Linked DNA regions of Homo sapiens: region 1 is linked to region 2. The links come from fine-mapping of genetic effects on gene expression. A gene starts in region 2. The other region holds a variant in brackets. All regions are shown on one strand. Distances are from middle to middle.

Region 1 (4,389 bases), 44 kb before region 2:
CAAGAGTATTCCTCCCTGATAATTTTTCAAGTTTTAGATGTTTGGAAAAACTTTTCTAATGAATTTTCAGTATAACTAAATAATTAATTCAAGTGTTTTTTTTCTTTTTCTTTCATCCTTTCTTTTTTTTTTTTTTTTTTTTTTTGAGACAGTCTCACTGTCACCCAGGCTGGAGTACAATGACATGACCTCAGCTCACTGCAACCTCTGCCTTCTTTTTTTTTCTCTTTTTTTTATTTTATTATTATTAAACTTTAAGTTTTAGGGTACATGTGCACAATGTGCAGGTTTGTTACATGTGTATACATGTGCCATGTTGGTGTGCTGCACCCATGTACTCATCATTTAGCATTAGGTATACCTCCTAATGCTATCCCTCCCCCTGCCCCCACCCCACAACAGTCCCCGGAGTGTGATGTTCCCTTTCCTGTGTCCAAGTGTTCTCATTGTTCAATTCCCACCTATGAGTGAGAACATGCAGTGTTTGGTTTTTTGTCCTTGCAATAGTTTGCTGAGAATGATGGTTTCCAGTTTCATCCATGTCCCTACAAAGGACATGAACTCATCATTTTTTATGGTTGCATAGTATTCCATGGTATATATGTGCCACATTTTCTTAATCCAGTCTATCATTTTTGGACATTTGGGTTGGTTCCAAGTCTTTGCTATTGTGAATAGTGCTGTAATAAACATACGTGTGCATGTGTCTTTATAGCAGCATGATTTATAATCCTTTGGGTATATACCCAGTAATGAGATGGCTGGGTCAAATGGTATTTCTAGTTCTAGATCCCTGAGGAATCGCCACACTGTCTTCCACAATGGTTGAACTAGTTTACAGTCCCACCAACAGTGTAAAAGTGTTCCTATTTCTCCACATCCTCTCCAGCACCTGTTGTTTCCTGACTTTTTAATGATCGCCATTCTAACTGGTGTGAGATGGTATCTCATTGTGGTTTTGATTTGCATTTCTCTGATGGCCAGTGATGATGAGTATTTTTTCATGTGTTTTTTGGCTGCATAAATGTCTTCCTTTGAGAAGTGTCTGTTCATATCCTTCACCCACTTTTTGATGGGGTTGTTTGTTTTTTTCTTGTTAATTTGTCTGAGTTCTTTGTAGATTCTGGATATTAGCCCTTTGTCAGATGAGTAGGTTGCGAAAATTTTCTCCCATTTTGTCAGTTGCCTGTTCACTGTGATGGTAGTTTCTTTGGCTGTGCAGAAGCTCTTTAGTTTAATTAGATCCCATTTGTCAATTTTGGCTTTTGTTGCCATTGCTTTTGGTGTTTTAGACATGAAGTCTTTGCCCATGCCTATGTCCTGAATGGTATTGCCTAGGTTTTCTTCTAGGGTTTTTATGGTTTTAGGTCTAACATGTAAGTCTTTAATCCATCTTGAATTAATTTTTGTATAAGGTGTAAGGAAGGGATCCAGTTAAAGCTTTCTACATATGGCTAGCCAGTTTTCCCAGCACCATTTATTAAATAGGGAATCCTTTCCCCATTGCTTGTTTTTCTCACGTTTGTCAAAGATCAGATGGTTTTAGATATGCGGCATTATTTCTGAGAGCTCTGTTCTGTTCCGTTGATCTATATCTCTGTTTTGGTACCAGTACCATGCTGTTTTGGTTACTGTAGCCTTGTAGTATAGTTTGAAGTCAGGTAGTGTGATGCCTCCAGCTTTGTTCTTTTGGCTTAGGACTGACTTAGTGATGTGTGCTCCTTTTTGGTTCCTTATGAACTCTAAAGTAGTTTTTTCCAATTCTGTGAAGAAAGTCATTGGTAGCTTGATGGAGATGGTATTGAATCTGTAAATTACCTTGAGCAGTATGGCCATTTTCACGATATTGATTCTTCCTACCCATGAGCATGGAATGTTCTTCCATTTGTTTGTATCCTCTTTTATATCATTGAGCAATGGATTGTAGTTCTCCTTGAAGAGGTCCTTCACATCCCTTGTGAGTTGGATTCCTAGGTATTTTATTCTCGTTGAAGCAATTGTGAATGGTCGTTCACTCATGATTTGGCTCTCTGTTTGTCTGTTGTTGGTGTATAAGAATGC[C/T]TGTGAGTTTTGCACATTGATTTTGTATCCTGAGACTTTGCTGAAGTTGCTTATCAGCTTAAGGAGATTTTGGGCTGAGACAATGGGGTTTTCTAGATATACAATCATGTCATCTGCAAACAGGGACAATTTGGCTTCCTCTTTTCCTAATTGAATACCCTTTATTTCCTTCTCCTGCCTAATTGCCCTGGCCAGAACTTCCAACACTATGTTGAATAGGAGTGGTGAGAGAGGGCATCCCTGTCTTGTGCCAGTTTTCAAAGGGAATGCTTCCAGTTTTTGCCCATTCAGTATGATATTGGCTGTGGGTTTGTCATAGATAGCTGTTATTATTTTGAGATACGTCCCATCAATACCTAATTTATTGAGAGTTTTTAGCATGAAGCACTGTTGAATTTTTTCTTTGTCAAAGGCCTTTTCTGCATCTGTTGAGATAATCATGTGGTTTTTGTCTTTGATTCTGTTTATATGATGGATTACATTTATTGATTTGCATATGTTAAACTAGCCTTGCATCCCAGGGATGAAGCCCACTTGATCATGGTGGATAAGTGTTTTGATGTGCTCCTGGATTAGGTTTGCTAGTATTTTATTGAGGATTTTTGCATCAATGTTCATCAAGGATATTGGTCTAAAATTCTCTTTTCTGGTTGTGTCTCTGCCAGGCTTTGGTATCAGGATGATGCTGGCCTCATAAAATGAGTTAGGGAGGATTCCCTCTTTTTCTATTGATTGGAATAGTTTCAGAAGGAATGGTTCCAACTCCTCCTTGTACCTCTGGTAGAATTCGGCTGTGAATCCATCTGGTCCTGGACTCTTTTTGGTTGGTAAGCTATTGATTATTGCCACAATTTCAGATCCTGTTATTGGTCTATTCAGAGATTCAACTTCTTCCTGGTTTAGTCTTGGGAGGGTGTATGTGTTGAGGAATTTATCCATTTCTTCTAGATTTTCTAGTTAATTTGCGTAGAGGTGTTTGTAGTTTTCTCTGATGGTAGTTTGTATTTCTGTGGGATCAGTGGTGATATACCCTTTATCATTTTTTGTTGCGTCTATTTGTTTCTTCTCTCTTTTCTTCTTTATTAGTCTTGCTAGCGGTCTATCAATTTTGTTGATCTTTTCAAAAAACTAGCTCCTGGATTCATTAATTTTTTGAAGGGTTTTTTGTGTCTCTATTTCCTTCAGTTCTGCTCTGATTTCAGTTATTTCTTGCCTTCAGCTAGCTTTTGAATGTGTTTGCTCTTGCTTTTCTAGTTCTTTTAATTGTGATGTTAGGGTGTCAATTTTGGATCTTTCCTGCTTTCTCTTGTGGGCATTTAGTGCTATAAATTTCCCTCTACACACTGCTTTGAATGCGTCCCAGAGATTCTGGTATGTTGTGTCTTTGTTCTCATTGGTTTCAAAGAACATCTTTATGTCTGCCTTCATTTCGTTATGTACCCAGTAGTCATTCAGGAGCAGGTTGTTCAGTTTCCATGTAGTTGAGCGGTTTTGAGTGAGTTTCTTAATCCTGAGTTCTAGTTGGATTGCACTGTGGTCTGAGAGACAGTTTGTTATAATTTCTGTCTTTTACATTTGCTGAGGAGTGCTTTACTTCCAACTATGTGGTCAATTTTGGAATAAGTGTGGTGTGGTGCTGAAAAAAATGTATATTCTGTTGATTTGGAGTGGAGAGTTCTGTAGATGTCTATTAGGTCTGCTTGGTGCAGAGGTGAGTTCAATTCCTGGATATCCTTGTTAACTTTCTGTCTCATTGATCTGTCTGATGTCGACAGTGGGGTGTTAAAGTCTCCCATTATTATTGTGTGGGAGTCTAAGTCTCTTTGTAGGTCACTAAGGACTTGCTTTATGAATCTGGGTGCTCCTGTATTGGGTGCACATATATTTAGGATAGTTACCTCTTCTTGTTGAATTGATCTCTTTACCATTATCTGATGGCCTTCTTTGTCTCTTTTGATCTTTGTTGGTTTAAAGTCTGTTTTATCAGAGACTAGGATTGCAACCCCTGCCTTTTTTTGTTTTCCATTTGCTTGGTAAATCTTCCTCCATCCCTTTATTTTGAGCCTACATGTGTCTCTGCATGTGAGATGGGTCTCCTGAATACAGCACACTGATGGGTCTTGACTCTTTATCCAATTTGCCAGTCTGTGCCTTTTAATTGGAGCATTTAGCCCATTTACATTTAAAGTTAATATTTTTATGTGTGAATTTGGTCCTGTCGTTATGATGTTAGCTGGTTATTTTGCTCGTTAGTTGATGCAGTTTCTTCCTCGCCTTGATGGTCTTTACAATTTGGCATGTTTTTGCAGTGGCTGGTACTGGTTTTTC
Region 2 (4,389 bases):
AGTGATCCATTGTTTTTTAAAGTCTTCCTCCAGAAAGCACTCTGTCCATTTGTGGGGGTCTGCCGGAGGCACACATTTCATACACATTGACTTGAATCAAATGAGATCCCTTTGTGCTCTCAAGTGTACGGCTATTTTTGAGAATCATTTATTAAGTGATTACTTAATAATTACATCATATTTTCCTCAGAACTAAGCATTACTTTGCTTTTGTACTTATATCAATTTTTAAAATTAAGACATATGCACAAACAACAAAAAGTTTATGAAGTATTTTCTGGAAATAGTGTCTATTTCCTATAGTGATATTACCCTATCAGTATACTGATAAACCTTAGCAGTGGTTAACTTAGCTACACATGTTCTAACATGCTCCTGAATCCCCCATGCTGGGTTACATCCTCTTTCTAGGTATTCCCTCATCCTGTATTACACTGGCATTGTTTATGTCTGTCTCTCCATTAAACCCTATGTTCTGTGGAATACTGTCATATCCAAGTTTATATGCCTAGTGTAGTGACAAGCACTTTAAATAAAGGCATTTACCTGATTTAAACAACTTAATGACTAAATTAATAAATATGAATACTGTAATCTTTGTTTTGTTGCTTGTGTTCTTTTACAGATTAGAATTTGGTCCATAGTTCTTACGTTTGTTTTGGGAGAATATTTTGACCCACTTCTAAGAAGTGTTTCACCTGATCCTGGCTATTTATGACTATGGCTATTGGACTGGATGGGTTCCAGGCATACACTGTCTTGCCTAAAGTAGCGGAATGCGACATCCCTGAGGGTAAGCAAGTGTGTTAGCTTTGTGTTCTGTGCCCTCCTCCAGAAATGACAGTACTTGCTGCAAGACTGTGAGCTCATCGAGGCAGAAGCCATGGCATTCAAATTAGTTTCCTGAGCCAGAACTTAACATCTGCCACAAAGTAGGCAGTTCAGTGAGCTTTTGTAGTTTCCAACTGGATGCAGCACTATGACTGCTTTTAGCTACTAACAGGGCCAGGCACTGAAACAAGCTCTAAATCCCCACAGAAAAATCACTCTGAGCCATCCATCCCTAAATACCAACCTGTGCATGCTATTCACCGTGCCAAGAGCGTTCACTCATTTTTGCTTCTCACAAATCTTTTTTTTTCTTCCTATGGCTTGCATGTTTTGAATGACAGCTAAATCCTAATGCGGACTGTTTATACAATGGAGTCCCACGGAGCCCAAAGATTGTGGTAATATTATTACAGAATTCTCATGATCCTTTTATTATTTTTTAAAAATGAGCCGTATGAATGTGGTAATACTATTAAGTGTCCGGCTCGATGAATTCCTCCATGTGTACACAGCCCGGAACGACCACCAGGATCAAGACGCAATGTTTCCAGCTTTCCATAGGTTCCCTCGTGCCCCACCCCTCAGAAGTAAACGTTATTCTAACTCCTATCACTACCGGTAAGTTTTGTAGGGAATTATTTTGGAGGAAGTGGAAGGTGGAATGAATGGGCCCACAGTCCCCTGGGACTGGGCGAGACCCGTGGAGGCTCCAGGGGTCCGTAGAGCTCTTCGCTCTCACCGACCCGGGCCACACCCGCCAAGCTGGTAGTTCTCCGAACGGATCCCTCACGCCCAGCAATGGCCGGAGGGCCCCCGGGCCCCACCATAATAGCGCTAAGCACGCCACAATGGCAGCCCCGCTGTCTCCCGCGCGGGCCTCGCTGCGTGCTCCCAACCTTGGGAGTTGGCGCCCCTCCCGCGCGACGGACAGCCGGGCGTGGCCCTGGGCGCGACCCGACAGGACGCCAGCAGCCGGCGGGGGCGCTCCAGGACTCGAGATGTGGGGCGCGGGCCCATTGGCTGAGCATTCCCCCGCGAGCCTCCCGGCCGCAGGGCCCACCTCCCGGCCCTCTCTCCGCGCCCCCATTGGCCGTTCGCGTTCCGCGGGCGTCCGCTCCCGCCCCACTCCCGCCCGGAGGGAAACCGGGTTGGGGGTGAGAGGCTAAAGCAGGGAGGAGGATGACTGGTCCTGCGGATAAGGGTGTGCGCGAGAGCCAATCAAAAGCGGATGTCGAAAAGAGGCGCCGCTCCAGCCAGTCACGTCGCGAGGTGCGGTCGGGGCCGGCTGACGCGACTGCGGGCCTCAGCCAATGGGCGTGCCACTGCCCGTCCGCTCTTCAGCAGCCGGTCGCGGGCGGTGGAAAAGCGAGTGAAGAGAGCGCGACGGCGGCGGCGGCGGCGGCGCAGCTATTGCTGGACGGCCAGTGGGAGAGCGAGGCCTGAGCCTCTGCGTCTAGGTGAGAAGGGGGTGCGCCAGCGGGAGCGGCCGGGCTGCGGGCTCCTCCTCGCCTGGCTCGGGAAGTGGTTGCGGGAGCTCGGGCTGCAGGCCTGGCCGAGGCGGGGGCGCCGACCAGCCGTCCCGCCCCCGCCCCCGCCCGGGTACGCCCAGAAGTGAGGGCGCCCGCCTCACCCCGGGTGGTCTCTGCCCCTCTTTGCCCCGCCGCCGCCCTTCACAGGGCCGGGACCGCGTGGGGGACGTACGGTGGGGCCTGGTTTGCAGCCGCGGAGCCCGGGGAGCCGCCTGGGGTGGGAGGCCGCTAGAGGTGGCGAAGGTGGGGCGGGGTGGTTAGCCGAGCAGCGGGCTCCGCGTGCTCGCGGGAGGGTAGCGGCAAAGGGAGGCCTAGTGATTGCAGGATTCCGGGTCTGGGGAGGAAGAAAGTGGTGGGAAATAGGTGATGCTCAGAAAAGGGTGCTGAGGGAGAAGGCGCGGGGCCGGGGAGTGTGGTTGGCCTATTAGAAGTAAGGATTGATAGGGCCTGGGTGGAGATCAGCTGGGAGTGAAGGGGGGACGGGCTTGGGTTTTGAAGGTGAAGGTCTCTGGAGAACTGGGGACACGTGGATCTGGAGTAAGAGGCACCTACTGAAACCGGAAGGTGGCTGAGAAGGTTTTATGTGAGGTGTGGACGGGAGGCTATTGGACTAGAAGGCATTAGTTGGTCTGTTAGGACAAAGTATACAAGCAGCAAACGCGGTAGATTTATGTGTGGTAGGTGAAGGCTGTGAATCTTTTATGAGTAGTTGAGCAAGAACAGTTGTCTGATTCTGCGGTGTCGGAGAGTGGAGGGTCTCAGGTAGTGTCTTGGTCAGGTTTGAAGGTTAATTTACTGCTAGTGGAGGGCCAAATACTCAAAAGAGTTTTTAATTCTCACTACTGGGGCTGATCCTCCTCCTACACTCCACCCCTCCTGCCATCCCTGTGACAGTTCATCTCGTTTTGCCTCAGCAGCACAAGAACTCACTCCCTCCGAAGTAATGGCATACATATTGTTTGCTTTTGACTAGATGGCAGTCAGGAATCCCTTAATTCTTTATGTTAAAAAAAAAAGTGTTGGTTTAAAGACAACATCAGAAGATACTCTCAGAAAATCTGCCCTCCAGGGGAGTTTCTCAGCTGTCATGTTGGGCATGTGTAATATAGCATAAAAATGATGCAAGATCTCTTACAGTAATACAAGTGAGAATTAACGTATAAGTACAATCCTGATGTATTTTTTTCAAATTAATTTAAAAAGTAAACAGAGACAGGGTTTGCTGTCGCCCAGGCTGGAGTGCAGTGGCGAGATCATAGCTCGTTCCAGCCTCAAACTCCTCGGCCCAAGAGATCTTTCCACCGTGGCCTCTCAAAGGCTTGGGATTACAGGGGTGAGCCACCCCACCCAGGCCCTGTTATTCCATACATTTTCCATAAAATTATTTTATAATTTTTGTTTTGTTTTGTTTTTATTTTATAAATTTGTGTGTGTGTGTCTCGCTTTGTTGCCCAGGCTGGAGTGCAGTGACGCGATCTTGGCTCGCTGCAACCTCCACCTCCCAGGTTCAAGTGATCAGCTCTTGCCTCAGCCTCTCGAGTAGTTGGGACTACAGAGACATGCCCCACCGCACCGGCTAATTTTTGTATTTTTAGTAGAGGCGGGGTTTCACCATATTGGCCAGGCTGGTCTCGAACCCCTGACTTCAAGAGATCCATCCGCCTCGGCCTCCCAAAGTGCTGGGATTACAGGCGTTAGCTGCCGCGCCGGCCAAAATTATTCCATAAATTTATCCATAAAAATTCCACATAAATTTTCTGGAGTTTGATTATGTATTAGGCTTGTTGGGAAATTTATTACCCTTGTGAAGAATTTTGTAGCTAAGTAGCTTGAGGGTTTTTTTTTTTTTTTCACTCAGGAAAGACATGGTATGTATGCATCACTGCTATTCTATTTGAAGCTTTTGGAATTTTTATTTATGGGGTGTGGATAGAGGCTGGAGGCAGAGACTGAGGTCAGAGAAGAGGTAGTAGAAAAGAAGGTGGCCCACTACCATATTTCCAGTGTATTTAAATGGGAGATAGAGTTT

The links. PIP is the estimated chance that this variant, and not a neighbour inherited with it, causes the effect. A credible set is the group of variants that fine-mapping cannot tell apart.
Region 1: its variant is the best candidate, but not a certain one, in a credible set for the expression of FAR1 in whole blood (TOPMed, PIP 0.69).

What each region holds. Positions count from the first base shown.
Region 1 is chr11:13,622,789-13,627,177 of GRCh38, forward strand. No RefSeq gene overlaps it. Among named protein-coding and RNA genes, the nearest start is that of FAR1, 44 kb to the right of the region's middle. The variant C/T (reference allele first, on the strand shown) is at 2,062.
Region 2 is chr11:13,666,519-13,670,907 of GRCh38, forward strand. FAR1 (fatty acyl-CoA reductase 1) reads left to right here and starts at 2,150. Exons shown (of 12, transcript NM_032228.6): 1 at 2,150-2,288. RefSeq lists silencers at 1,700-2,189, 2,300-2,579 and an enhancer at 2,660-2,709.